Homo sapiens: one gene and its partners. The protein of the gene in region 4 purifies or fractionates together with the protein of the main gene of each other region. This does not show direct contact. Each region holds a gene or a part of one and is shown on either strand. Other genes may lie near its edges.

What was found.
Region 1: the proteins of MOV10 (region 4) and LARP1 purify together in Homo sapiens (affinity purification with mass spectrometry, with the first as the bait; one large-scale study listed by BioGRID). This does not show direct contact.
Region 2: the proteins of MOV10 (region 4) and HNRNPA0 purify together in Homo sapiens (affinity purification with mass spectrometry; one large-scale study listed by BioGRID and IntAct). This does not show direct contact.
Region 3: the proteins of MOV10 (region 4) and SUGP2 fractionate together in Homo sapiens (co-fractionation; one large-scale study listed by BioGRID). This does not show direct contact.
Region 5: the proteins of MOV10 (region 4) and CEP135 purify together in Homo sapiens (co-immunoprecipitation; one large-scale study listed by IntAct). This does not show direct contact.
Region 6: the proteins of MOV10 (region 4) and POP1 purify together in Homo sapiens (affinity purification with mass spectrometry; one large-scale study listed by BioGRID). This does not show direct contact.
Region 7: the proteins of MOV10 (region 4) and ZNF326 purify together in Homo sapiens (affinity purification with mass spectrometry; one large-scale study listed by BioGRID and IntAct). This does not show direct contact.

Annotation. Positions count from the first base shown.
Region 1 is NC_000005.10:154,757,930-154,762,369, reverse strand, and holds part of LARP1 (la-related protein 1), read right to left. Parts: intron 1-4,440. UniProt on the Homo sapiens protein: RNA-binding protein that regulates the translation of specific target mRNA species downstream of the mTORC1 complex, in function of growth signals and nutrient availability.
Region 2 is NC_000005.10:137,744,364-137,748,302, reverse strand, and holds the end of HNRNPA0 (heterogeneous nuclear ribonucleoprotein A0), read left to right. Parts: 3' UTR 1-2,652; downstream 2,653-3,939. UniProt on the Homo sapiens protein: mRNA-binding component of ribonucleosomes. Specifically binds AU-rich element (ARE)-containing mRNAs. Involved in post-transcriptional regulation of cytokines mRNAs.
Region 3 is NC_000019.10:19,012,572-19,017,011, reverse strand, and holds part of SUGP2 (SURP and G-patch domain-containing protein 2), read left to right. Parts: intron 1-4,440. UniProt on the Homo sapiens protein: May play a role in mRNA splicing.
Region 4 is NC_000001.11:112,681,159-112,684,658, forward strand, and holds part of MOV10 (helicase MOV-10), read left to right. Parts: intron 1-3,500.
Region 5 is NC_000004.12:56,007,529-56,011,968, forward strand, and holds part of CEP135 (centrosomal protein of 135 kDa), read left to right. Parts: intron 1-798; coding exon 799-854; intron 855-2,206; coding exon 2,207-2,375; intron 2,376-3,883; coding exon 3,884-3,994; intron 3,995-4,271; coding exon 4,272-4,440. UniProt on the Homo sapiens protein: Centrosomal microtubule-binding protein involved in centriole biogenesis. Acts as a scaffolding protein during early centriole biogenesis.
Region 6 is NC_000008.11:98,157,203-98,160,664, reverse strand, and holds the end of POP1 (ribonucleases P/MRP protein subunit POP1), read right to left. Parts: intron 3,049-3,462; coding exon 2,394-3,048; 3' UTR 830-2,393; downstream 1-829. UniProt on the Homo sapiens protein: Component of ribonuclease P, a ribonucleoprotein complex that generates mature tRNA molecules by cleaving their 5'-ends. Also a component of the MRP ribonuclease complex, which cleaves pre-rRNA sequences.
Region 7 is NC_000001.11:89,997,618-90,002,057, reverse strand, and holds part of ZNF326 (DBIRD complex subunit ZNF326), read right to left. Parts: intron 3,949-4,440; coding exon 3,904-3,948; intron 1-3,903. UniProt on the Homo sapiens protein: Core component of the DBIRD complex, a multiprotein complex that acts at the interface between core mRNP particles and RNA polymerase II (RNAPII) and integrates transcript elongation with the regulation of alternative splicing: the DBIRD complex affects local transcript elongation rates and alternative splicing of a large set of exons embedded in (A + T)-rich DNA regions.

The DNA of each region.
Region 1 (4,440 bases), on a different chromosome or scaffold from region 4:
ACAGATAAACCCTCAGAGTGAGTAATTACCAATATCTGGCTTTGGAATGCAATCTTCTGAAATAAAAAAAAAAACTTACATCTTACCTCTGTGTAGGAGGTTTTTTTGGTTTTTTTGTTTTGTTTTGAGATGGAGTCTTGCTCTTGTCACCCAGGCTGGAGTGCAGTGGCACGATCTCAGCTCACTGCAACCTCCGCCTCCCCGGTTCGAGCAATTCTCCTGCCTCAGCCTCCTGAGTAGCTGGGACTACAGGCACACGCCACCATGCCTGGCTAATTTTTTTGTATTTTTAGTAGAGACGAGGTTTCACTATGCTGGCCAGATTGGTCTTAAAACTCCTGACCTCATGATCCGCCCGCCTCGGCCTTCCAAAGTGCTAGGATTACAGGTGTGAACCCCCGCGCCCAGCAGGACTTTTTCAATTCATGAACTGTACTGCCCCATACTCAACAGCAATTTGACGCTCTAAACAACCTCAGCACCGGGATTAGCCCCATTCTGTGAATAAGGAAAACAGGTTAGACAAACAATCTAAGGTCACAAAGTGAGAGCAGAGAGAAGTACCCTGCCCATGTTCTAATTTAAATCCCATCACCTTCTCCCTTCACATTGATGTGCTGTTTCCCATGTTTTCACCAGCGAGGTACCAAAACTTACTTCCTTTCTTGAATCCCAGGCAAGGTAAGGCCATCCTCTCTCCTGGCCACTCCCTTAGATCACTCTGGACCAGCCAGGGAGGTTTTTGAGTCTGGACTGAGGCACCTGCTGAACCTCCAGTGGCCCCAACACCCTAATTACTCCCTTTGAGCTGTCTTGGGTTTTGCAAACAGGGGAACTCCCATCTGCCAAGCTCTCCATCTTAAAGAGGTTTTGTAGTTTCAGGCCGGCTGCTCCTCCTCCTCCTCCCACCCTGCCCACCTCCCAGAAAAGAGAATGGGTGCTCAGTAACAGCTATTAAGATTGCTTACTCCAGTTCAGGTCCCACTATAGACAGTGGGTGGGTCAGCAGAAAGACCCCGACCCTCAGGAGGTTCAGAGTTCAAGAAAGCTTGTGACTACCCTCTACCTCCCAAAGGGCCAAAAACCACTTCCTAAAAACCTTCCCCTACCTGGCAGGCACTCACTTCCGGGTTAGTATGAAACTCAAACTACCTGTGCAAAAGGAAAGGGGCCAGGCCAGCTGAAGGCTCCCGATGAAAGCTGCCTCCCACTCTCCCCTTCAAAGGGTGTCCTAATTGTGACCTTTCCTTAGAAGAAGAGAAAGTGATTCACACTATATTGCTTCTTGGCCTTTTGGCTAAGATCAAGTGCACAATAGGAAAAAGCCTTAAGTCTTATGTAATAGACTAACCTAACAGTTCTTAGGTGGGGGTGCACAATATATCCAGTTACACAGTTAAAAACAATCATAATACCATTATCACCCCTGACAAAATAAGATAATTTCTTAACTTAGTCAATTTCCTCAGTTGTCATCAAAATGTCTTTGGACATTTGGTCAAGAATCAAGATCCAAACAAGATCCACAACAATGCACGACTGATGTCTCAACTTTCTTCATCTGTAACAGTTCTTCCCTTTAAAAAATGCCATTTATTTATTGGAAATAGTGTGTCTTGTAGAATTTCTCACATTTAGAAACTGAATAACTGCCTACCTCATGGCTAATTAGTCTGTTCCTGTAGCCCCATTTCCCTATAAACTGGCAGTTGGATCTATGGTTCTGTTAGATTTAGGTTCAGTTTTTATTTGGTGGAGGAAATTTTCAGGCAGTGCTGTGTGCTTTCAGACACTGTAAGGCACATAATGTCTGGCTGCTCCATTATACACCCCCAAGCCATCGACTTAGGCTCCTGAAGCCAGAAGAGTTTCTCCAGCCTCCAGAGAGCTTGGATTCCTAATCACAACGCAAATACAAAGCTACACATATATAAAGCTCTACTTTGGTTTCTTTCTTTTGTGGGGAGGGAGTTTTAGAAAAAAATTTTTGATACTAGAAAAATTTTAAGACATTTAGACCTAGTCTAATACCCTGATTTTACAGACGAAGAAACAGGCACAGAGAAAGCAAAGCGTTTGCCGGTGTCCACATTGCTGGTCATGAGCAGGATCAGAAGTAGCTCCTAGGGCCGGGCGCGGTGGCTCACGCCTGTAATCCCAACCCAAAACTTTGGGAGGCCAAGGCAGGTGGATCACCTGAGGTCGGGAGTTTGAGACCAGCCTGACCAACATGGAGAAACCCCGTTCTACTAAAAATACAAAATTAGCCGGGCATGGTGGCACATGCCTGTAATCCCAGCTACTCTCAAGGCTGAGGCAGGAGAATCGCTTGAACCCGGGAGGTGGAGGTTGCAGTGGGCCGAGATCACACCACTGCACTCCAATCTGGGCGACAGAGCCAGACTGTCTCCAAAAAAACAAACAAACAAACAAACAAACAAACAAACAAACTTAGCCCAGCCTATCTTAAATGCACTCAGAACACTTATATTAGCCTACGGATGGCCATAGCATCTAACATAAAGCCTATTTTAAGCGTTTAATGTCTCATGTAATTAATTTATTGAATACTGTACTGAAAGTGAAAAACCATGGTTGTATGGGTACCTGAAGTACAGTTTCCAATAAATGTGTATCACTTTCCCAACAACATAAAGTCAAAAAATCATAAATTGAACCATCATAAGTTGGGGACTATCTGTACTCTCAAGTCTCACGGCACTACATGTGCACCAGCCACAGCAAACTTTCAGTCCAGTTAGGCTGGCTTTTCCTCATATCCCTGAGAGCACACGTGCAACTCCCCCCAAAGAAAATCTTTACAAAAGGCAAACTAAAAAGTTAAAACTTATTTTTTTAAAATTCATCTCACCACATTCCAAAGCAAAAAATAGCTAATTCTTAAGAGTCAGCAACCTTTAAATTATCCATCCATGCCCTTCATGTCTGTGGATAAGCAAAAGTCAAGTTTTAAGGAGACAGATCCCATACATTTCACGGAGTACTTATATAACACAAGAAAAGGAAAGATCTGCATTCACCAACCCCATCATATTACAGGTAGAGAAAACCAGAGACCCAGGGAAAAGTCCCACCAAGACCCAGAGTAAGTAACAATGTCTACCTGCCAGGCACTGGGCTAAATACACTTATCATAACAATGAATGCTGGTAATACCCCCATGAGGCAGGTGAATCATAAATACCTATTACACAAATTAAGAAGGTGAGGCATAGAATGGTTAAATAACTTGCCCAAGGAAGCACAGCTAACAAGTGGTACAGTGGCATTTGAACCCACTCAGTTTGACCCCAGAATATTCGCTATGTATCATCTCTTAACTTAGACGTCTTGGATCTTATACTTAAAAGGGGTATGGCTAGGATAAGACAAAAATTTTAAACATTTAAAAATACTCTGGGGAGGGAGGGAGATCTAAAAAACCAAAATGCAAATCCCAAGACTTAAAACTACAAATGTAAGACTTGGACGCTTAAACCAGAATACAGAACCCCACAAGAAAGTAGAGATATCACGAAACATATTTTATTACTAGTTACTGCATGTGTCCCTTAAAGAACTAAAACACCAACATTTGAGCCAAAAGTAAGGCTAAAAATAGGCATTTACAGCAAGCTTTGGAAAGCTTTTAGTTTGCTTATGAGGTACTCATTTCTGTAGACTCCCAAAAACATGTGCATCACAGAACACAAAAATTCCCAAGACCACACAGCCACTCCACTAGTGTCACGTTTAAATTTGTCGAAGCTGTAAATAAAACCAGGGCTGGAAAAGCACTTCAGAGATCCACGTAGGCTCCAGAGAAAGGGTCATCATCTAGCCTTACCAGACTGACAACCCAATCATAGAATTCTCTCTCAAAATGCACACAAACCCTAACAACAGGCTTAGAGAGAGAAGCTACTGGATTAACTTGAGTTAGGCTGTCAAAACCTATTCCAAAGGTTCTAAACCAACAAGTAGACACTCTCTTGCCTTAAGATTCCAAAAAACAATAACAGAGCAAATCTACCCTTACTCAGAATTTTGCTTTGGGCACTTAAAGCAAGTCAGCTTCTCCACTCAGAGGAAAAGGTGAGATGCCAGCCAAGCTGTCTTCTTCCCACGATCAATAACCCCAGTGACGCACACTATCAAGGGCTCCTGGACTTACACAAAATGCCAGCTCAGGCACCCAATACCACCTGATGTCACGGTTGATTTAAAACCCACAAGGTAGGTTCACCATTAGCCAAGCCAGGATGAGTAGCCCCATTTAAAAGGAGTGCTCTCTCCCGGGGATGATTATACCCTTTTGAGTTTAAAGAGGGGAGAAGGACCAAAGAGTGTTTTAAAGTTGTTTTCCTTCACTCTGTGGGTGGATAGGAGGGACTGAAAGAAAACGGAGGTTTCAGCACTGTCTTTTGCATAAAAGGGCTC
Region 2 (3,939 bases), on a different chromosome or scaffold from region 4:
GAAGGTATAAATAATGTGAGTGTTGAGGAGAGGTGACTTCAGGTAGGAAGAAGGATCAAGAGAGGCATTGTGGAGCATATAACATTTAACCTTAAAAGATAGGTCTTATAGAGAAGGTGGGAGGAGAAAGAGGGCATTTTAGGTGGAGGACAGATAGGCAGAAACATGGAGCGTATTTGGAGAAGTATGCATATTGGATGCCAAACACTAGGTACATTTACAAATGTTCTCATTGCATCATTCAGTAACCTTCACAGATAAGGTTGCTAAATCTCATGCCAGAAAAGTAACTCCCAAGGACCCCCAGCTGGTGACATGGTAGAACTGAGAGTTGAATCCAAGTTTGACCAATTCTAGTTGTTTCGCTCCTTCTACTAAGCTTCATTGACTTCCAGCTAACAAATGTCTAATTTGTACTAAGATAAAAGAGAGTTGTGAGAAATAAATTGAGAAAATGAAGTTGGAACCAGGTTACTGAGGTCTTTGAGTAGTAGGCTAAGGAGTTTGGACTTAGGGTAGGCAGTAAAAGTCATTAAAGGTTTTTGAGCAACAATAATGGTAGTGAAACTAATTCACAAAGATTAGTCCAGTAGCACTGAGTAACATAAATGGCAGTGGGGGATGTTTCAAAGTGGCAAGTTTGCTAAGACAACTGATGTTAACCAGGTAAGAGAATGAGAGCATGAACAAAGAGCAATGGAAATAGACTGACAAAGAAGTTGAGGTAAGTTGTGAAAGCATAATTGACAAATATTTGGATATATGAAGAATGAGGAAGAGAGAGTAGATTAATCAAAATTACTGTGTGAGAGGATGGTGATGCCACTGGTAATAGGAAGAGAAGATTTAGAGGGAAGATTTGGACATAGTTGAAGATGCTGGTAGCACATTGAAGCATTGTGTCTTGCGCATATAGCTTTACAAAATGGCCATTGTGCTGGATATTCTTTTTGCCCTTCCTGATCTATTTTCCATCTTTATCTCTCTTGTTCTGTGTTCCTGGGAGGCTGACAAATAAAGAACTGCATACTCTCTTTTCTGGCTTTATTCATGGTGGGTTTGGACAGTGATAGAAAAGTGAGGCTGAAATATTTGCTCCTTCTCTTTCTCATATACTTAGCAAGAGATTGTGAGTGGCCACAGCTCTGCTCCAGTGGCCCTCTTATAGCTCTAGGTCTTTTCTGGCTTCTCGTAACTGTCTCCTATTGCTAGATTCTCTAGTCCCAAGAAGGTTCAAACCTTGTTGATTTGCCTTAACTGTGCCCATACCCTTGTAAATAGTTCCTTTTATTAAAACTCTTCAATAACTGAATATACTGTGGTCATCTCTTCAGTGAAATTAAAAAAAAAAACTTCTTTCACATTTTCTTATGACTTGATCTTCCCACACCACCAAACGTGAAGATCTAGCTATTTGCACTAGGTTACTATCCCTAAATTCAGTGCCTCCCTGTTTCTTAGTATGTCAAGTTAAAATTTGTTACTCTTCTGCTGGGTGATTGTGCTGGAAATACAGAAGAAAAAGACAAAAATCCCTGCCCTCAAAGAGCTTATATTTTACTGGGGAGAGACAGGCAATAAGACATAATCAATTATATGGTATGTTAGAAGATGAGAAGTATAGAAAAAATTAGGGTGAGGAATGGCGATTGTTGCAAGGGATGTTTGTGAGGATAGCATACTTTAAAATAGGTGGTATGGGTAGGTCTCTCAGAAAGTGACATTTGAGCAAAGACTTGAAGGAAATGTGGGAGTGAGCAATATAGGTATGGGAAGAGCATTCTAGGTAGAGGATTAGGAAGAGCAAAAGCCCTGAAGCAGGACTGTGTCTGGCCTCTGAAGAAATGCAAATTGTTCAGGGTTGTTGGACCTGAAGGAAGAGGAGGAAAGGAATAATGAGGCCAGAGGGGCCAGATCATGTAGGGATTTGTAGGTTGTTGTAAGGATTTTGGTTTTCACTAAATGAATGGTGAACCATTTCAGTTTTGAGCAGAGGAGTTCCATGATCTGATTTGAATTTTAAAAGATGTGTTTCCCAAAATTCCTATTCCTTTCATACAGCTGCTTTCAATGAAGGTTTATAAGGAAAGCAATCAGAACTACTTGGATAAGGTATAAGTGATCCACAATCTTTTCAACTCTACCATAGGTATCTACATATATATGTTGAGAGATGCTGCTTTTTGGCCAAAATGAATCTTGAATTGGGGGTGTGCAGAAAAAGTTATATCTGGCCTGAGGCTGGTATCTTTTAGAGTGGCCTACTTGCATGGTTGGCCCTTATCTGAACACGTGGATTTAGGGGTATTCTCACTGTTCACTAATAAAGGTGGTTCACTGTACCTAGACTGTTCAAACAAGATGATTTATGCTAAACACCTGCTTTCCTTCTGGGAGTATGGAATTTTGGTACATGCCAGGTAAAGGATGTCTATATGACCAAACTCCCAATGAAAACCTTGCATACTGAGTCCCTAGGCAGAAACATCCCTCGTATAAAAATGTGCTCTGTGTGAATCTTCATGGGAGGGAGAGATCCTAAAGAAGCCTGCACATGGATTCCTCCAGATTCTGCTTATGTCTTTTTCCTGTATGATCCAACTGTGTACACTTACTGTGTCACTGTAATAAACTTTAGCCATGAGTACGATACTTAGCAGTGCTGAGTTTTGTGAACCCTTCTATCAAATCTCAATATGGGCTTGGTCCGGGGGATCCCTGACACAGGCAGATTTTTTTTTTTTTTTTCAAAGAGTCACCAAGTTAATTGGAAAACATCAGGTTATGGATAGAAGGAGCAGTTGGGCAACCTGTCACAGAAGTCAGCCAGCTCTGTCTAGTGGAGAGCTCTTCTGAGCTGTTTCTGCTTTGTTAATTCCTTTTCTTTCTCCAAAAGCTTCCCTCCATTTGGTTTTGTCACACTTTATACATTTGTAACAAACTGCTGACCGGAATTTGTCCATCAGGTTATGAAAAATGGCAAATGAGGAGAGTAAAATTATGGATTTATTTATTAAGAACTATTAAAGTATTCATATGCTCTGGGACACCATTACTAGGAATTTAACCTTAACAGAACAGTTTATTGAAAAATTTATTGAAAGGAAAACAGTCTTTGCATAAAAATTATGACGTAGCAAAAAATTGGAAACTAAATGTCAAATATTAGGGAAATGTTAACTGTGGTCTGTCAAAAGGTGAAATATTAACTCAGTGTTATCAGGTGAATGAATTAACAAGATGTGGTATATACATACAATGGAATATTCAGCCATAAGAAAGAATAAATTTCTGGTATATGCTACAAGATGAATGAAAACATGCCAAGTGAAATAAGCCTGCACAAAAGGACATACTATGATTGCACTTAAATGAGGTACCCAGAGTAGGCAAATTCAGAGAGATAGAAATGGGAAATTACTGTTTAAGGGATACAGAATTTCTTTTCAGATGTTGAGAAAGTTCTGAAAATGGATAGTGGTGATTGTTATACAACATTATGAATGTACTTAATGCTGATGAATCGTATATTTAAAAATGGTTAAAATGGCTTTTTTTCTTTTTTTTGGAGGCCGGGTCTTACTCTGGTGCCCAGGCTGGAGTGCAGTGGCATGATCATAGCTCACTGGAGCTTCGAACTGTGGGCTCAAGTGATCCTCCCACCTCAGCCTCCCCCGTAGCTAGAACTGACTACAGGCACGCGCCACCACAGCTAGCTAATTTAAAAAATCTTTTTGTAGAGATGGAGTCTTGCTATATTGCCCAGGCTAGTATTGAACTCCTGGGCTCAAGTGATCCTCCCACCTCAGCCTACCAAAATCCTGGGATTACAAGTGTGAGCCACCACACCTGGCCTAAAATGGCAAATTTAATGTATATTTTACCACAATAGAAATTGTAATGAAAAAATATATTATTTAACATAATAAATATGTAAGT
Region 3 (4,440 bases), on a different chromosome or scaffold from region 4:
TCTTTGGTCCTACCCACCATGATTTACCAAGGGGAAGGTTGGAGCTTATTGTGGTTTTATTTTTACAAAATTCTTGAGTTTGGATTATTTTCATGTATTGAATGAGGTAGGCATGTAACTTAAAAGTTAAAAATTCCCAAATAACCTAATTGTCCCAGCATCATTTATTGAATACTTTTTATTTAATAAACACTTGTGCCTTCTGTGCAGTTGGTACTGTTCTAAGCACATTACTGATTTAAGCACTAGCTGGTTGAATCCTCATAAACAACGTTGGGAGGCAGGTCTCTTGCTATGCTTATTTTACAGACAAGAAACTTTGAGGCTCCAAGAGCCCTCTTGCCTTGAGGATCCACAACTAGTAAGAGGCAGAGTTGAGATTCAAATCCAGGGTCTGTGGTCTGAACCAGTGTGCATGTTGAAGGATTGTCAGATTGACAGATGCAAGCAGATACCGACCCTCTTGGTAAGAAGGCATCCAGACTTAGAAGGCCCAGGGGCACTTTACAGGTGGTTGATAAGGTGATTAGGCTGGAGGAATAGGAGGCCCTGAGAGGCCTGGGGGCTGGTGCCTCTGCCCCATGACCCCTGCACATGGCCCAGTGGTCTCATGACCACTGATAACCAGGGGCAGCAGACGGAAGCCAGAGTCAGGGGTATGTTTGGATAGGGGGCAGGGCAGGGTACAAAATCAGAAATAAGCGGCCGGGCATGGTGGCTCACACCTATAAGGTGGGTGGATCACGAGATCAGGAGATCGAGACCATCCTGGCGAACACGGTGAAACCCTGTCTCTACTAAAAATACAAAAAAAAATTAGCCGGGCCTGGTGGCGGGTGCCTGTAGTCCCAGAAATAAGCATCAAACTAAGAACTGATATTTGAGGTAAACCAGTATCATGAAAGAGCATCACCAAACTCAACCAACTCCTGACACCCTAGAAGACAGAGTCACTATGAGAAAGAGGAGGTGTAGTCTATAAATATGTATGTGCAATGAATAGTCTCAGGTAATAAGAGTATATTGTATCCATGAAACAGACACTGGTTGCTATGAAAACGATTCTATTAAGGATCTTGGAAATGAAAAATAGATTGAAATAAAAATCTCAGCGGTTGGCTGATAGAATAGATCCTGAAGAAGGAAAGATTTAGGAGTTGGTCCCAGAGACTTTATCATCCAAAAACTCCTTCACAAGGAATTACCTGGCTGGGTGCAGTGGCTCACGCCTGTAATCCCAACACTTTGGGAGACCGAGGGGGACAGATGACTTGAGGTTGGGAGTTCGAGACCAGCCTGGCCAACATAGTGAAACCGTGTCTCTAATAAAAATACAAAAAATTAGCTGGGCATGGTGACAGGCGCCTGTAATCCCAGCTACTTGGGAGACCGAGGCACAAGAATCACTTGAACCCGGGAGGCAGAGGTTGCAGTGAGCCAAGATCGCACCACTGCACTCCAGCCTGGGTACAACGGAGCATGACTCTGTCTCAAAAAAAAGAGAAGGAATTACCAAGAGACTGTAAGAGGAAAGAGTGTGATACAAAAGCACAGCAATAAGTAAAGAAACTGCTAAACTTAGGTTTCTGGTGTGCATGTTTGAATTCTTAAGTCAAAATGCTCCTTGTATGTTGTATTTAACAAAACAGTCAATTGAACGCATAATGAAAAGCCAAATGTTTCTGCTGTGACCTGTTTCCATGTTCCACTCCTTGAAGGCAGTCACTTAGTTCTTCAAACTACTTCTCACGGCTACCTCTGTATCTCTTTTTATTATTTATTTATTTATTTATTTATTTATTTATTTTTTGAGACAGAGTCTCGCTCTGTCCCCCAGGCTGGAGTGCAGTGGCGGGATCTTGGCTCGCTGCAAGCTCTGCCTCCCGGGTTCACACCATTCTCCTGCCTCAGCCTCCCTAGTAGCTGGGACTACAGGCACCTGCCACCACACCCGGCTAATTTTTTTGTATTTTTAGTAGAGACGGGATTTCACCATGTTAGCCAGGATGGTCTCAATCTCCTGACCTCATGATCCTCCTGCCTTGGCCTCCCAAAGCGCTGGAATTACAGGCATGAGCCACCGCACCTGGCTTACCTCTGTATCTCTTAATAAGCCTATGTTGCTTTTTCTTGACTGAACAGTTTTATGCATGACCATTGACATTCTCTGAAGATATATGTGGATTAATAAGTTCTTTTTTTTTTTTGTTTAAAGAGATGAGTTTTCATTCTGTTGCCCAGGCTAGAGCACAGTGGCATGATCATAGTTCACTGCAGCCTCAACCTGGGCTCACAAAATCCCCCTGCCTCAGCCTCCCAAGTAGCTGAGACTACAGGAGTACACCACCGCATTCAGCTATCAGCTTTTTTTTTTTTTTCTTTTTTTAAGAAATGGGTTTTTGCTCTGTTGCCCAGGCTGGTGTCTAACTCCTGGGCTCAAGCGATCCCCCAGATCACTGGGGTTACAGGCATGAGCCATCATGTCCAGCCTTAATAAATTCTTTTTATTAGTTAGCAAGTGAAAAAGTCAGACCTCTAGGAGGCAGATATAAGAAGGGCTTCTTATCTCCACCCTCTGAGGGCCAGCAGAGATTTGAGACCTTCCACCCTCACACCCCACAAGCATGATTTGTTCCCACTGGAGCCTTGTGGACAGAACTGGCCATTGCCTCTTTGCCGAGGTGACCTGCCTCGTGTCGTGCACTAAAGATGTCAGAAGAGCCAGGTGCGGTTACTCACACCTGTAATCCCACCACTTTGGGAAGCCGAGGCGAGTGGGCCGCATGAGGTCAGGAATTTGAGACCAGCCTGGCCAACATGATGAAACCCCATCTCTACTAAAAATAAAAAATTAGCTGGGCATGGTGGTGGCTGCCTATACTCCCAGCTACTCAGGAGGCTGAGGCAGGAGAATCACTTGAACCCAGGAGGCAGAGGTTGCAGTGAGCTGAGATCGCACCACTGCACTCCAGCCTGGGCGACAAGAGCAAAACACCGTCTCAAATCAATCAATGAATCAATCAGAAGTATAGACAGACACATCCACTATGGCTTTACTTCCTTGTTTGGAACACCAAGGGGCAGGCTTCCGTCCTTTTCTATGAGAGAGTGCAAAGCATCAAGCCTAGAAAATGATAACAACAGTGCAGGATATAAAGCTGAAGGAATATGTCATACTTTGTTTTCTCTCATCTTCTAAATTGTCCCCTGGGAGTGGGCCAGCCCTGACCATGCTCTCCAGGGAGAGCCCACCAGGTCCTACGTGTTCACACACTCAGGAAAACAAGTGGCTAAGAATCCCTGTGGTCTAGCCTCAGCAGGATTGTCCAAGCACCCCAAAGTTAACATAAAATCTAAATAATTGATGTTTGGGGTGAAATAAAAGAAACTAAAATCCCAGATGATCTAAATATGTGAGGCACAAGGGGAAGGAGGGAGGTAGGTGTGCAGGCCTTTGTCTTGTTTGACATGAGGATAGAGCTAAAGGGTAATTCTGGATATTGATACAAAATAAAAGTTTAGGTATGTGTGTCGATTAGCCATTAAAGGAACAGAAGTGAGGTCTATAACTTCCGTACTACTATAGAGAGAAAGAAGCAAAAACACAGGAATTGGAAAACACAGAGATGGGAAATTGCATAGCAGGTGAACGCTACCAAAAAGAAAGGATGTAGAGAATTGTTTAGGCAAAAAAGACTTTAAGGAGAACAGCACTAAAAGGAGCAAAAGAAGTTCCTGATAAAAGGGAAAGTCATCACGAACATATAGATTGTGAATCTTGGTGCCTGCACTACATAGCTTTGAGCCATGTAAATAAACAACCTTTAGAAATCATTTAAGTCCAGAGCTGGGTGCGGTGGCTCATGCCTGTAATCCCAGCACTTTGGGAGGCCAAGGTGAGCAGATCACCTGAGATCAGGAGTTCAAGACCAGCCTGGCCAACATGGTGAAACCCCATCTCTGCTAAAAAAAATTCGAAAATTAGCTGGGTGTGGTGGCGGGTGCCTATAATCCCAGCTACTCGGGAGGATGAGGCTGGAGAATCACTTGAATCCAGGAGGCAGAGGTTGCAGTGATCCGAGATTGCGCCACTGCACTCCAGCCTGGGTGACAGAGCGAGACTCCGTCTCAAAAAAAAAAAAATCATTTAAGTCCAAAACCATGATAAGAGGAATTGGATGAATCCAAAACCATGGTAGGAGACATTAATGTTTCTCTGAAATGCGTAGACGACGTAATCCAAATAAGGTTGTGGAAGATTTTATAACACAGGAAATGAGCATAAACAGAGACAATCTGCTAATATTTGTTGAGCGGTTAATGACTACTAGGCAGTTTTCATAGCACTTGCCTCCTAGTGAAAAGCTTATAACGCAGGCCTCACAGCTGTATGATGAAGTAGCTACTGCTTATCATCTTCCCTGTCTTACAGATGGAGAA
Region 4 (3,500 bases):
CAATCAGGGTGGTTTTTTTAGTCATTGTTTTATTTAAAAAGAATCATGTTTGGCCGGGCTCAGTGGCTCAAACCTGTAATCCCAGCACTTTGGGAGGCCAAGGCGGGTGGATCACCTGAGGTCAGGAGTTTGAGACCAGTCTGGCCAACATGGCGAAACCCCGTCTCTACTAAAAAATACAAAAAATTAGCTGGGCGTGGTGGCGGGCGCCTGTAATCCCAGCTACTCGGGAGGCTGAGGCAGGAGAATCACTTGAACCCGGGAGGCGGAAGTTGCAGTGAGCCAAGATGGCGCCATTGCACACCAGCCCGGGCGACAGACCAAGACTCTGTCAAAAGAATCATGTTATTCACATCATCCACGTCCTACTCTCTCAACTGTGTGATGGGAATCACTCGTAGGCATATGGCATAGACCTCTAATGCATTGTTGGGATTTTTTCCCCAATATCATACTATAATAAATTTTAAACATAAAGAAAAGTTGAAATGAATCTACAGTGAACATCCACATACCCTTACCTAGATTTCTTTTAACGTTTTACACATATCTGCCCATAGATCCATCCCGCTATTCATTTAGCAAGTCATCTTAATTTTCCTGATGCATTTCAAAATAAGTTACAGACATCAGTACACTTCACTCCAACAAATTATTATTAATTATTTAGCGTGATTATTATCAGCTAGAGTTCAAAATTTATGTTATGTTTGCCTAGAAATAAAAAAAAATTGTTTATGGGTTTTTTTTTTTTTTTAGACAGTTTTGCTCTTGTTACCCAGGCTGGAGTGCAATGGCGCAGTCTTGGCTCACTGCAACCTCCGCCTCTGGGATTCAAGCAATTCTCCTGCCTCAGCCTCCCAAGTAGCTGGGACTACAGGCATGCGCCACCATGCCCAGCTAATTTTTTGTATTTAGTAGAGACGGGGTTTCACCATGTTGGCCAGGCTGGTCTTGAACTCCTGACCTCAGGTGATCCACCCGCCTTGGCCTCCCAAAGTGCTGGGATTACAGGCGTGAGCCATCGCGCCCGGCCATGGGTTTTTTGTTGTTGTTGTTTGGGTTTTGGTTTTTTGTTTTTTTAAGTCAAGGTCTTGCTCCGTTGTCAAGACTGGAGTACAGTGGCATGAACATAGCTCACTGCAGCCTCAACCTCCCAGACTCAGGCTATCCTCCCACCTCAGCCTCCTGAGTAGCTGGGACCATAGGCGTGTGCCACTATGCCCAGCTAATTTTTCATTTTTTGTGGAGATGGGGTCTGTCTATATTGTGCAGGGTGGTCTTGAACTTTTGGGATTACAGGTATGAACCACTGTGCCGGGCCTTTAAGCAAAATTTGCAAACAGCAAAATGTTCAAATTGTAAGTGTACTGTTCTGTGAGGTTTAACAAATGCATATATCTGTGTGCAAACGCCTGTTGAGGTACAGAACATCACATCACTCCAGAAAGCTCCCTCGTGCCCTTTCCTAGTCAGTCCTCACTCTTACTCACCCAGAAGCAACCACTGCTCTGATTTTTTCATGACAGTACCTGTTCTAGAAATTCATTTAATGGAATCATATAGTATGTACTGTTGTGTAAGGCAACTTTCACTTAGCGTAATGTTTTTGAGATTCATCCACAATGTATCAGTAGTTTCTTTTTTATCACTTAGTAGTATTCCATTGTATGAATCCAAATCACAGTTTGTATATTTATTCCCCTGTTTATGGACAGTGTTTTTAGTTTGGGGCTCTTCTGAATGAAGCTCCTAGGAACATCTTTTTTTTTTTTTTTTGAGACGGAGTCTTGCTCTGTTGCCCAGGCTAGAGTGCAATGGCATGATCTTGGCTCACTGCAACCTGCACCTCCCAGGTTCAAGCAATTCTCCCGCCTCAGCCTCCTGAGTAGCAGGGATTACAGGTGCCTGCCACAACGCCTGGCTAATTTTTTTTTTTTTTGTAGAGACGGGGTTTCACTGTGTTTGCCACGCTGGTCTCGAACTCCTGACCTCAAGTGTTCCATCCGCCTTGGCCTCCCAAAGTGCTGGGATTACAGGCGTGAGCCACCGTGCCCAGCCAGGAACATCTTATACAAGTCATTTTGTGGACTTACATTTTAATTTCTTTTGGGATGTAACTAGGAGTGGAATTTTTGAGTCATAGGATAGGCATATGTTTAGTTTTACAAGGAACTATTAGACCTTTTCCCAAAGTGCTTAAACCATTTTACAGACCAACAAACAATGCATGAGAGTTTGGGTTGTTGTATTTTTTATTTTTTTGAGACAAAATCTCATTCTGTCACCCAGGATGGAGTGCAGTGGCACAATTGTGGCAGACTGCAGCCTCAAGGGCCCAGCTAATTTCTTAATTTTTTTGTAGAAACAGGGTCTTGCTATGTTTCCCAGGATGGTCTTGAACTTCTCAGTTGAAGTGATCCTCCTACCTCAGCCTTCCAAAGTGCTAGGATTACAGGCATGATCCGCTGTGCCTGGCCTGGTTGTTCCGTATCCTTACCAGTGTTTCGTATTGTGAGCCTTTTAAATGTTAGCCATTTGAGTGGGTGTGGTACATCTTTTCAATGGCTGCATAATATCCCACGGTATGAGTGCTTACAATGTGTTCACCTTTCACTCTGTTGATGGGCATTTGTTTAATTTTCAATTCTTGACCACTGTGAGTGACTCTGCAGTAAGTATCCTTGCACATATGTCTTTATACATTGGTACTTTTCTTCCCATGGGACACATTCCAGGAACAGTGTTACTGGGTTTTGTGGGGTTTTGTTTTATCTTTTAAATTTAAATTTTATTTTATTTTATTTTTTGAGTCAGGGTCTTGCTCTGTTGCCCAGACTGGAGTGCAGATCTGCAATCATAGCTCTCTGTAACCTCAAAGTCCTGGGCTCAAGCAATCCTCACACCTCAGCCTCCTGAGTAGCTGGGACTACAGGGGTGTGCCACCACACCTGACTAATTTTTTTTTTTAATTCTTTGTAGAGACAGGGACCTGCTATGTTTCTTAGGCTGATATCAAACTCCTGGGCTCAAGTGATCCTCCCACCTCAGCCTCCCAAAGTGCTAGGATTAGAGGCGTGAGCCACCATGCCCAGTCCCTGGGATTTTTTTTTTTTTTTTTTTTTTGTGACAGAGTTTGGTTCTTGTTGCCCAGGCTGGAGTGCAATGGCGCGAACTCAGCTCACTGCAACCTCCGCCTCCTGGGTTCAAGCGATTCTCCTGCCTCAGCCTCCTGAGTAGCTGGGATTAGAGGTGCCTGCCACCATGCCCAGCTAATTTTTTCTATTTTTAGTAGAAATGGGTTTCTCCATGCAGGTCAGGCTGGTCTCAAACTCCCGACCTCAGGTGATCCGCCCGCCTCAGCCTCCCAAAGTGCTGGGATTACAGGCGTGAGCCACCGTGCCCGGACAGTCCCTGGGTTTTAAAGGATACCTGTATTTTAAATATTTGTAGATGTTGCCAGATTGTTTTCCCAAAAGATGGCAATACTTGACTCTTCT
Region 5 (4,440 bases), on a different chromosome or scaffold from region 4:
GAGGTAGTCCTACATCCCCACTTAGTCTCTGGGTATCCTCAGGGACAGGTCTCCCTTCAGGTATCCATGATGTTTCCTGTGTGTTGAGGCATGGAACAGGTCTCCTGCCAAATTACCCAAGATAGTAGAAAAGCTGATTGTCCACCTCAATCTCACTTTTTCCGGTGTAGAAACCATGAGTTAGGGGAGATTTTCCAGGTACTTGGTGCCAGCCAGATTGAGAGAAGGGGCATCACAGGTGTGAAAATTCGATTCTGTCACTGTCTGCTCAGAGGTTTTTTACGTCTCTGTGGCCCAGGAACTGACTCGTCCTCATATTTGAGTCCTGGGATAGTGCTGATGATAATGTTAGCATTGTATATTTATTTTTGGTTTTCTTTGTCAGGATTGAAGTCAGCTTGTGACTACACCACCATTTTAGACCCAGAAGTTTCCCAAATATGCAGTTATTATTGGCCATGTAGAAGTTTCTAAGACCTAGGGCCATATTTTCTAATGTTTAAATGTCATTTTTTTCAAATAATGTTAATCTTCAAAATGTGATTTTGTCTATTTCTAGAATGTGATTTTATCAGATCTCATTAAAGCAAACTCAAGAAAACTATTCAAGGGTTGGTCAAAACATGCCAGTATGTGAAGTATGATTGGGACATGGAGATATGTTTACTTGGAGCTTTGTTTTAGGCATACTTTATATAATTGAGCTGTGTATTTGAACTATATGAATATGACAAGTTACATAAATTTAGCTAAAGACATTTTGGTTTAAAATCTTACACATTTTTGTAATTTCTATAGGAAAAAGCTGTTGCTCAAATGAAGATAATGATCTCAGAGTGTGAATCATCTGTGAAGTAAGTCATTAATGAAATTACATCCAGCTTTTTAGGAGATTTTCAGTGAATACAGCTTTATCTATTCAGTAGCATTGCAGCAATAGAAGAATTTCCCTTTCAATTTCCCCATTTTTGTCAATGGTAGCATCATTTTCTCAGTCTCCAGCTTGAAAATGTTATCTTCTTTAACCTCTCCTTTTCTGTCATCCACATCTAAACACTTATGTCTTATTAACTATTCTCCTATATACCTATTTGTTCCTTATTTTTACTATAATTATGCCACTTGGAGCCTAATCATTAAAACCTAAAATTACTTTAGTAGCCAATCTCGAATTTATTCTCCATCTAAACCTATCTTGAGCACTGTCACAAAATTTTACATTTTATGTATAGTCTCTCTAGGCAGATTGTAAGCCACTTCAAGAAAAAAGTCACTTATTATATTTATTTTACATACCCTTAACATTTTATATAATAGTGGGGATTATAAACATTTAATAAATATTTGCCAATTGAATCTATGCTTTACTTTTTGTTTGTTTGTTTTTGAGACAAGGTCTCACTCTGTCGCACAGGCTGGAGTGTAGTGGCGAGATCTCTGCTCACGGCAACCTCACCCTCCCCAGGCTCAGGTGATCCTCCCACCTCAGCCTTCTGAGTAGCTGAGACTGCAGGCGTGTGCCACCACGCTCAGCTAATTTAAAAAAAAATTTTTGTAGAAACAACGTCTCCCTATATTGCCCAGGCTGGTCTCGAACTCCTGGGCTCAAGCTATTCAACTGTTTTTGTTGTTGTTGTTGTTTTTTGTTGTTGAGACGGAGTCTCGCTCTGTTGCCCAGGCTGGAGTGCAGTGGGGCGATCTCGGCTCATTGCAAGCTCTGCCTCCCGGGTTCACGCCATTTTCCTGCCTCAGCCTCCCAAGTAGCTGGACTACACGTGCCCGCCACCACACCCGGCTATTTTTTTTTGTATTTTTAGTAGAGACGGGGTTTCACCGTGTTAGCCAGGATGGTCTCTATCTCCTGACCTCATGATCTGCCCGCCTCGGCCTCCCAAAGTTCTGGGATTACAGGCGTGAGCCACCGCGCCCAGCCCCCAAGCTATTCAACTTTTAACACTTGAAAGTTTTCTGTGTTTACTTGACTGTTGGAATAACATTTTTTTTTAACTTCATTTGCATGTAATTATTGGTAGAGCTCTAAAATACCTGTTCTACCTAATTAATAGGTCTCTTAATGCAGCAGTTATAATTTCTTATAATCACAGTATATTTGTATTCTAAGTATACTTAGACTATAAGTTTTCTTTTAAATGAACTACAGTTTTTAAAAGTTTTCTTTATTAGTTTCACATCACTCATTTAACAGCCAGCTGAAAGAAACATTGGTTAATCGAGATCGTGAGATAAACAGCCTCCGGCGCCAGCTTGATGCAGCTCACAAAGAACTCGATGAAGTAGGAAGATCTAGAGAAATCGCTTTTAAGGAAAACAGAAGACTGCAAGATGACCTGGCTACAATGGCAAGAGAAAATCAAGTATGAACACAAGGCATAAATTTTGATAGTTTTATACTTTCCATTGTTTGCTAAATATTAAAGCTCTAAATATTTTTTCTAAAATCTGATGATATAAAAATAAGTGACATAAATAATTCATTAAGGACAATGGTGTTTATCAGGGTATTAAAAAATGGAGCTTAGGCCGGGCGCAGTGGCTCACACCTGTAATCTTAGCACTTTCAGAGGCTGAGGTGGGTGGATCACTTGAGGTCAGGAGTTCGAGACCAGCCTGGCCAACATTGTGAAAACCCCCCCCCCACCCCCATCTCTACTAAAAATACAAAAATTAGCCAGGCCTGGCGGCATGCGCCTGTAATCCCAGCTGCTCGGAAGGCTGAGGCAGGAGAATCACCTGAACCTGGAGGCAGAGGTTGCAGTGAGCCGAGATCGTGCCACTGCACTCCAGCCTGGGCAACAGAGTGAGACTCCATCCAAAAAAAAAAAAAAAAAATGGGCAACAGCGTGAGACTCTGTCAAAAAAAAAACACATAGCTTAGAATGCTGCTATATATCACAGGGTGTCTAATGGGTGCAACTGGTCTTCTCACCATTTTGGTCTTTGTTGCAAGGAAACCTAAAGGTGGGAGCATGAAATTCTGTATGTCAGAAATCATTGTCACCCTACCGGGCGAGGACATCAGCATCCCTCCCAGAGCAAAGTTTCTGTGTTTTAAAGACTCAGGATAGGTTTTAATTATTTGTGCAAGCTTCTGTCGGCTCCAAAATACACCTGTAGATAAATGAATGAGTGTTTTAGAATGGCAAGTACTGAAAGGTGTTAGTTCTGTTCGTGCTGGTTTCTTAAAAGATTGTACTGAGAAAACCAGTGATTTTACTGTTTTAAACATCTTACGTTTTTAAAAAATTATTTTCCGTATTATTCAGCATAAAGCATATTGATGAAATATGAATGTTTTTTAATGTCAACCCCTGACCATAGCTAGCCTTTAGTGTAAATGCCAGATACATGATCAGGACTATTATGGGAAATGTGTGATAAAGTTTGGTTAAAAAGTCAGTATCAGACCAGGCGTGGTAGCTCACGCCTATAATCCCAGCACTTTCGGAGACCAAAGTGGGAGGATTGCTTGAGCCCAGGAGTTTGAGACCAGGCTGGACATCATAGTGAGACCTCATCTCAGAAAATTAAAAAAAAAAATTAGCTGGTATGGTGACATGTGCCTGTGGTCTCAGCTACTCGGAGGGCTGAAGTGGAAGGATTGCTTGAGCCCAGAAGGTCGAGGCTGCAGTGAGCTGTGATCACGCCATTGCACTTCAGTCTGGGCGACAGAATGAGACTCTGTCTGAAATATTTTAAAAGGCAAGATCAGCCAGGAAAAATATGTGAAAATAACACTTAGGAACAGTTTTCCTTTTGCCCTACTCTATCTTATTCTCCAATTCCAAAGGAATTATTTGAATATAAATAAAATTTATTTGGTGTTGTGTTCATTTTAGATTGTCTTTAATTTTCTGATTTGTAGGAAATCTCATTGGAATTGGAAGCAGCAGTGCAAGAAAAAGAAGAAATGAAGAGCAGAGTTCATAAATACATAACAGAGGTGTCACGATGGGAGAGCTTAATGGCTGCCAAGGTGAAAAATATTATTTAGGTTGGATTTAAGACTGAGGTTTTTTTTTTTTTTAACTTTTTCATGTGCCTCTACAATTAGATATTAAACATTTTAAAGTAGAGATCTTGTCTACTGCCTTTTTCTATTTTTCCCATAGATTTTAGTGTGGTACCTGCACAGATATCTAATGCTTCCTAAATTAGAACAGAATGCTGTGTATGTGTATGTGTTTATGACATAGGTGTTCCAGGAAGTGACAATTACTAATTTAGAAACAATTTTATTGTGATTAAACCAGGAAAAAGAAAATCAAGATTTGTTAGATAGATTTCAGATGCTTCATAACCGTGCTGAAGACTGGGAGGTCAAAGCCCATCAAGCTGAGGGAGAAAGCAGCTCAGTTCGACTGGAACTTCTTTCTATTGACACTGAGAGGAGACATCTTCGAGAAAGAGTGGAGCTATTAG
Region 6 (3,462 bases), on a different chromosome or scaffold from region 4:
CTCAGCCTCTCAAGCAGCTGGGATGGCAGGCATGCGCCACCATGCCTGGCTAATTTTGTATTTTTGGTAGAGACAGGGTTTCACCATGTTGGTCAGGATGCTTCAAGAACCCTAAAAGCATTGCTCCCTCAACAAGAGGACAAGGGCCACATTGCACTTATTTGGTAGCTATGTAGCTCTAGTACAGCATGGCAGGCACTTGGAAGGATCAAGATCAACACGCTAATCAATTCAACTGCCAGAAAGTAAGCCATTCCCCTATCAGTCTTTTTCATAAGGAACATGGATTCTTTACTGCCTCTGCAGAGTCTGTTAGTTTTTCAACGTATCTTCTGTGAAACTAGTGTTCTCTGGACAATAGGTATGCAAAAACCAAAAAAGGTACGTGTGTGGGAGTCTGAAAGACAGATTTCTTTCCTAAAGAGCTTTGCAGAGCTTTGACTCTGCAAGTATTCATTGTGAATCATAATAGGAGGATACCATATATAGCTTTTCCCATATTTATTTAGCCATAAAATACTTTTCTCCAGGAACAGCTGCAGGGACTAGTACTCCCAGGAATACATTTTGGGAAATGCTAATCTATCTTTCTGGTGCGCAGCTCTTTGACCTACCACCCACCAGGCAGAGTGGCTGCAAACGTGCCCTGTCCCCTATAATGAGGGCGGGGCAGCAGGCCCTAGGCAGGGCTGTACAGAATGAGGTTAGGTGACCACGCAGCACACTCAGACTTCTGTCATCGAGTGAGCTCAGCCACAAATGAGGTGACTGAGAGCCCAGAAAACAAATAAGGAATGGTCCAATAAATATAAATATTCACAACTGAACATCAGGTGACATTTTCATTTATTCTGTTTACAGATGCCACTTAGTTACACTGTTTTTTTTTTTTCAGTCTCATCTGGGTTGGATCCAAAGACATTCAGAGGCATGGTAAGAGGCAAAGCATCAGACATCTCATTGGTGGCAGGTACTTCCTGACTACTGTACCACCTGCTGTATCCTTCCCCACCTCATCACCCCCAAAGCCATTTAGTGCCAAATGCTACAGTAAAAACCCAATGCATTTACATAAAATAATGCCTAACTGCATATTTACATTTTTTAGAAAAAAAATCCCATTAAGCTCTTCTAGAAAGTTATGGCAGGAAAGGTAAGGACCAAGGCTATGAGCAAGCCATATGTGGAAACTTAAAGTAGATGAGCACTGAGTTTCTCCATAGTTGGAAAAAAGCCACACTGAGCCCACTCTTCCTGTGAGGCAAGATGAGACCTTCCTTTTATACCCTGTTGAGAATCTCAGGTGGACAACGTGACTGCATGAGTGTTGAAAGGCAGCTTGCCGGCTTAGTTATCACCTTGCAGAGGTAGCTATGCACTACACAGCCACACTGCCCAAAGCGCGCTACTAAGAACACTGGTCCTACAAAGGGCTCCTTGTAAGAGAACTTTAGGAATCACAAGTATTTAGAAAATACTATACACTATCATTTCCTTCCTAGAGATCCGCAATGCACATTATCACATGGAAGTTTCCAGAAGTTCTTTCATAAAGAAATGCTTAACTTTATTTAACCTAGAGTTTCCATATCAACCTGACCTTGGAATCTCTTACTTTTTTAGGTGACACATATCATAGAACATATTCTGAGAAATGCTCCTCTATGGCTTTGAGAAAATCTTTGCAGAAACAAAATAATAATAATTTTTTACTTAAAAAAATTAAGTAACTAGTAGGATCAAGTGTTGGTCAACAACAAAGAGATCAAAGAGTCAGGAAGTCCACGTCATAGACCCCCACTTTCTAATTCCAGCCTAGCACTGACGCCATAAACTGTGCCTGCCTGAAAACAGGCAGAAATCAGTTGTCCATGATTTCTCTCTTTAAGGCTTGAGTTGTTCGGCATGGAAATCACAGTACAGAATTGAATGAGGTCCATCAGGAGCCCATATTTCATGTACAGAGGCCAAGCGTCTTCTCTTGTCTTCTGCTATAACAGTGAAATCATTAAACATCTATTGTTGCTTATCACATGACTATGAGGTTTTTCAAATAGACCTGACAAGCCCTTTGTTTCTAACAAAAAAAGGGGATGATAACTCGTAGAGCTTCTCATTATTTTCAGCCACAACTACACAGACCAAGAGATCATAATACAAAGCTTTTGGCCAAATAATTTAAAAGTATTACAGCAAGGACAGGGAAAGATGAAAATCAATGACATTACTGGAATGATGTAAACATTTCATCATCTGCATAATACATAATTTTTTATTCTTGTTTCCAGGGAGTTTCACATGATATTTTAAAGCAGAAGCAGATTCTCCACATGTAGAACTTGGCAGACAATAATAACGTATTATCTATGCCCTGCTGGGATACAAGCACGCATTCACACCTCAATAGCAATCCTCGCAAATCGATACTGCAGAGAGGCGGGAGGCCTCAGTAGCACTAAGCCCCTCTGCGCTGCAGGCTGGCTGGACAGCATATCCAGCAAGCCTGTCAAGCTAACAAACCCCAGGGCTTCTCCACAGCCAACAGCCATGGAAAAATCTCCCTGAGTCACAAAGCCTAGGAGAGTTCTGGAGCAGTGCAACGTCACACGCGGCAGAGGGCCTGACCACAGCCCTAGAGTCAGAGCTTCCTGCCCAGCCACGGGCTCTTCCCCCGCCGGGCCATCAGAAGAGGCACGTCCTGGCTTCTGCCTCTTCTCCCTTTTCTTCTTCTCTTTCTGTTTCAGGATCTTGCTCCTGAATGGGTCACTGTGTTTGGATTCCTGGGGCCCACAGTAATGCCAGTCCTCATGGAGCTGGAGGAAGTCCTCCTTGGCTGGGACACAGATCATGGTGTGAGGCTCGGGGCTGCCCTTGCTGAGCAGGGACAGGCTGACCCAAACCAGGGCCCTGGGGAAGTGGCCCAAGATGGACAGGCAAGCCTCTCTGGTCAATCCTTGCTGGCCTCTGCCGGGAGCTCGCCGGCCTCCCCGACTATCCTCAGAACTGGGCCCACACCAGGCTGACAGTTGCTTCAGTAATTTTCTACTCCTACATGAAGTTGGAGACATACGTTTGAGGATATTTTGTTCCAGAAAAAAATATGCAATCAGAAGATTAGACACTGCTAGAATTAATTTGATTCTTTTATACTATATAAGAATCAAAACTACAATTTTTTAAAAATTAGAAATACACTGTAGTACATTTTAGTACTTATATTTTTCTTTTTATGTGTTTGCCATTCTGAAACTCAGGGACTAAAGATTTAAGAAGTTGAAGGCAGGGAAAACAAGACAGTGAGATAGAATCTAGGATTGTAATCACAGTGAGGGTGAAAATAAAGAGCCACTAAGATTTCAATGAGTAAAGGAACTGTAAGGGACTGTTACATGTAAAGTAAGAAAGAATGATAGGAAATTATGAGGCTACTATACGGAAAAGTAAGCACAAGGCTAGAGGGAT
Region 7 (4,440 bases), about 23 Mb from region 4:
ATGAGAACATAGTAGTATATCTTAAATGATAGTAATTTACCCAGAAAAATAAAACTGACCTAATAATTTAAATCAAATATATTCTATCACTTGGATCACTCTATCATACAAATAATACGCTCAAAAATGCTAAAACTCATTTTTAATTAAAACACAAAGCAGCAGCTGTGACATACTGGGGGAAAAAAAACTGACCTATGGGCTGGGCAAGGTGGCTTACACCTGTAATCCCAATCCTTTGGGAGGCCAAGGCGGGTGGATCACCTGAGGTCAGGAGTTCAAGACCAGCCTGACCAACATGGTAAAACTCCGTCTCTACTAAAAAACACAAAAAAAATTAGCCAGGCATGGTGGTGGGTGCCTGTAATCCCAGCTACTCAGGAGGCTGAGGCAAAAGAATTGCTTGAACCCAGGAGGCGGAAGTTGCAGTGAGCTGAGATCACACCATTGCACTCTAGCCTGGGCGACAAGAGAGAAACTCCACCTCAAAAAAAAAAAAAAATTAAAAACTGACCTATGACCAAAATAACTAACTATGTGACATTAAGTCTTGAGTGGGACTACTTTTTAGCAACTCTACACTACCAGCACCCTACTACAAGATACCAACATCTACCACCTAGGTTATTGCAAAAGTCTCCTAACTGGTTTTCCTGCTCCACTTTTGCTCCTTTGCTGTTTTTTCTGAAGACAACAGCCACAATAATTCTGACAAAATGTTAAGTTCAATCATGTTCAATGCTCAGTAACCTCCAATGGGTTCCTCTTATTCCAAGTAAAAGCCAAAGCTTAAAATAACATCTAAGAACCTATACCAGTGGTTCTTAACTAGGGGAGATTTTGCACCCCCTGGGGACATTGGCAATGTCTGAAACATTTTTGGTTGTCACAACTAGGGGGCAGATGCTACTGACATCTGGCATATTATAGAGGCCAAGGAGGCTGCTAAATGTTCCACAATGCACAGGACATCCCCCTACAACAAAAAATTACCCAGTCCAAAATGTAAGAAATTTGAGAAACCCTGCCCTACATGATATGCCCCATCACCTCTTAACTTCATTATCAATTACATACACCCCTGTTCACTCCACTACTACAACACCAGGCCCCTTGATGTCTCTAGAACACAAGGTGTATACCCATTTTAGCAGCTGCTGTTCCCTCTGCCTGGAATGCTCATTCCCCTGAACCTGCACTGTTTACTCCCTCAACTTTTTCAGGTCTTCACTTGTATTGCTTCTGATATATAAGCAAATTATCTTTGATTTTCAATGCTTTCTGGCTCCACCTCACCACTCTAACCTTGTCTTAAGATTGCTCAGCAAAAAATCATCTGTTCTAGTCAAGCCAGCGTTAAGGTCTTGCTCTGTCACCCATGCTGGACTGCAGTGGCACAATCATAGCTCACTGCAGCCTCCACCTCCTGGGCTCAATCGATCCTCCCATCTCAGCCTCTGGAGTAACTGGAACTATAGGGGGGCACCACCACGCCTGGCTAATGTTTTTAAAAAATTTTTTTGTAGAGACAGGGTCTCACTATGTTGCCCAAGCTAGTTTCAATCACCTGGCCTCAAGCAGTGCTCCTACCTCAGGCTCCCAAAGCACTAGGATTATAGGCATGAGCTACCACACCCTTTTCTCTCCCCTTTTCTATATGCTATTTATGTAAAAGGTATTATGAAGCAAGAAGGAAAACATGGAGACACTGGAAATACATTTTCCTTCCAAGAAATAGTGTGGGGAAAATCTGTATCTTGCCATGTTTTCCAATGCCTTCTACTTCATTTCACTTCCTAGAAAATACAGTGCTAACAATAAAATATATTTTTGGCTTTTTGGTACCTACACACTGTTTATTTCTTAAAGCCCGTAAGTCTTCTTCTAAATGGCTTCATGGCTTGCATACTCACTCATCTTAAATCTATGCTCAAATGTCATCTTTTTGGTGAGTCTTTCCCCAGAGACTCTAAAATTGCAACACATACAAGCACACACACACATTTATCCTCCTTCTCTATGTTACTCTCCCTCGCAATGATCATCATCTAACATACAATAAATATTACTCCCTTTTTCCCCTGTGGACTAAATTATGACATATATATTATTTCTTATCTTGTTTACTATTTCATCCCACTAGACGGAAAGCCTCACAAAGGCAGGAATATTTGTCCATTTTGTTCACTGCTATATTCCCACCTCCTAGAACGATATCTGATGCCCAGCAGGCACTAAATAAATATTTGCTGAACAAAGTCAAATTGAATCCCTGAAATTAAGTTCCTCATTTGTAAAATATAGATAATCTAGACCTAGAAGTACTGTCAAGCATTGGTCTTTAATCAGAGGTGCCTTCCAAAATCATTCAGAGTAGTTTTGCACAACATACACAGCCAAAGACCACTTGCCCTGAAATTAAGATTCAAGAGGTATAGGCTATGTGTGAAAAGAGAGACTTTGAAAAAGCTCCCCAAGAGATTCCAACAATCACCCTCAGATGAGAACCAGTTATAACTAAAATTAAGAGAAAAAATAAAAGTCATATTAGATCTTTTTGCAACACTGTATACTAATTAATAAATAAACATCTGGCCCTGCATGAGTCTGCATTTCAAGTCCTATGTTTAGACATTAAATCCAACTATCCAGTAAATCCTAGATGGCCTTTTATCATTACAAACTCTCTCCCTCTCCCCCTCCCTCTTCCCCTCCCCCTCTCCCTTGTAAAAGCACTAGTCATACATTCCAGTTTAAAATCCTGGATTCATTTTTATTCAACCCTCTCAATTTTCTACCCATTACTAGTCAGCCTGCAAGTTCTGCTAATTTGCTCTTTATTTTTAAGATTACTACTACTATCACCTCCCAAGTTCAAGGCCTTAAAATCTTTATATCAAAACTTATGAAATGGCTTTCTCGTTAATTTTCCAGTTTTCAATATAACTTACATGTGGATGCAAATTAAACTTCCTTTGGTAATTTTCAATTTCCAGCTCACAAATACATTCTTCAGTACTAACTCCCTATATGTTAAGCCTTTTTAGCCCACATGAAATCCAAAGTTTATCTTAATCTTTAAAGATAATGAAATAAAAATTAACTGTTCAGTAATTATTCCCATAAATGGCATAGTCTTTAGTATACATTTGCTTCAGTTTTACTTTGTGAATATATTCTATTCTGTACGAAAGTTGGATTTTACATTTCTCTGGCAATCATGATATTTAATGCCTCAAGTCCTTCATATGTTTTTTAACCTGCATTAATTGTTCTGTGTTCTTTTTTTGTATTATTATCTTGTGTGGCAGGGCCCTAACTCTAATAACTATCAAAATGACATCCAATTGTATTCTACATACCTCTCATGATTCTATCTAGTTCTATAGTCACAAGTCTAATGTCATGCTCATGTCAATAAACAATCAAGCTTCTTCATGTGCTCCTCTAGACAGCTCTTTATATACTAACACATTTGGACACACTGAAGAAAATGACCTCAAAAACAAGGTCAAAATGCATTACAATACAAGCTATATAGAACCAAGCCAATAATCCACTTAGTCTACATTACTCAATACCAAAGCCTCTAATTCAACCAAAATAACTCAGCCAGTGTCTTGTGATTCATCACTCAGAATGTAGTTAGGCCCTTTGGAACACATTAAAATAATCATAATTCAAACAAAATGGACCAAAAAAAAAATCAAACTAATGTGAATAACCCCTAACATTTTCTGATAGCACATTCCCCAATTCAAATACTATATATAGTAAGACAATATTAACACATAAATGATATATCAAGAACCAAAACAAGGACTGAAATAGGTAGAACTGGCCTTTTACATTGATACTATATTTTTATGCGCATGAAGAGAAAAGCTGAAAGAGGATACTTACCATTAAAGCCCTGATAAGTATTCCTGCAGGCGGAGTGTGTGTAATCTATGAAGACACATTTAACAAAAAGGAATTAGTGTGATATTAGCAATAATTCAAAATTATATGCCGATCCAGTAAAAAACAAGCACAATTTTTAAAATGACATTAACCCAATTATCTGCAAAACTGAGAATAGTTAAAACAAATAATTACCAATACTCCATTCCAGAAAATGTATCTCTTTTTTCTTCACTATCTCCCCAAATGGTAGGTTTATTATCCAAATTATGGTAAACATTAGTTTACAACACCTGATACATAATAACAGCCAAAAGAGGGGATTCAGCACTGATTTGTACCAAGTAACACAAAGGCAGATAGATTAAATTATGTATCAAATAATGCAAAAGCAAAGACATCTGAGAATTGTACGTAACATGAAATTTTTGCTAAGTTAATTTCTTTTACCATTTAATTTGCTCTTTAAAGATTTCAAGATCTTGGCCGGGCACGGTGGCTCACGCCTGTAATCCCAGCACTTGGGAAGGTGAGGTG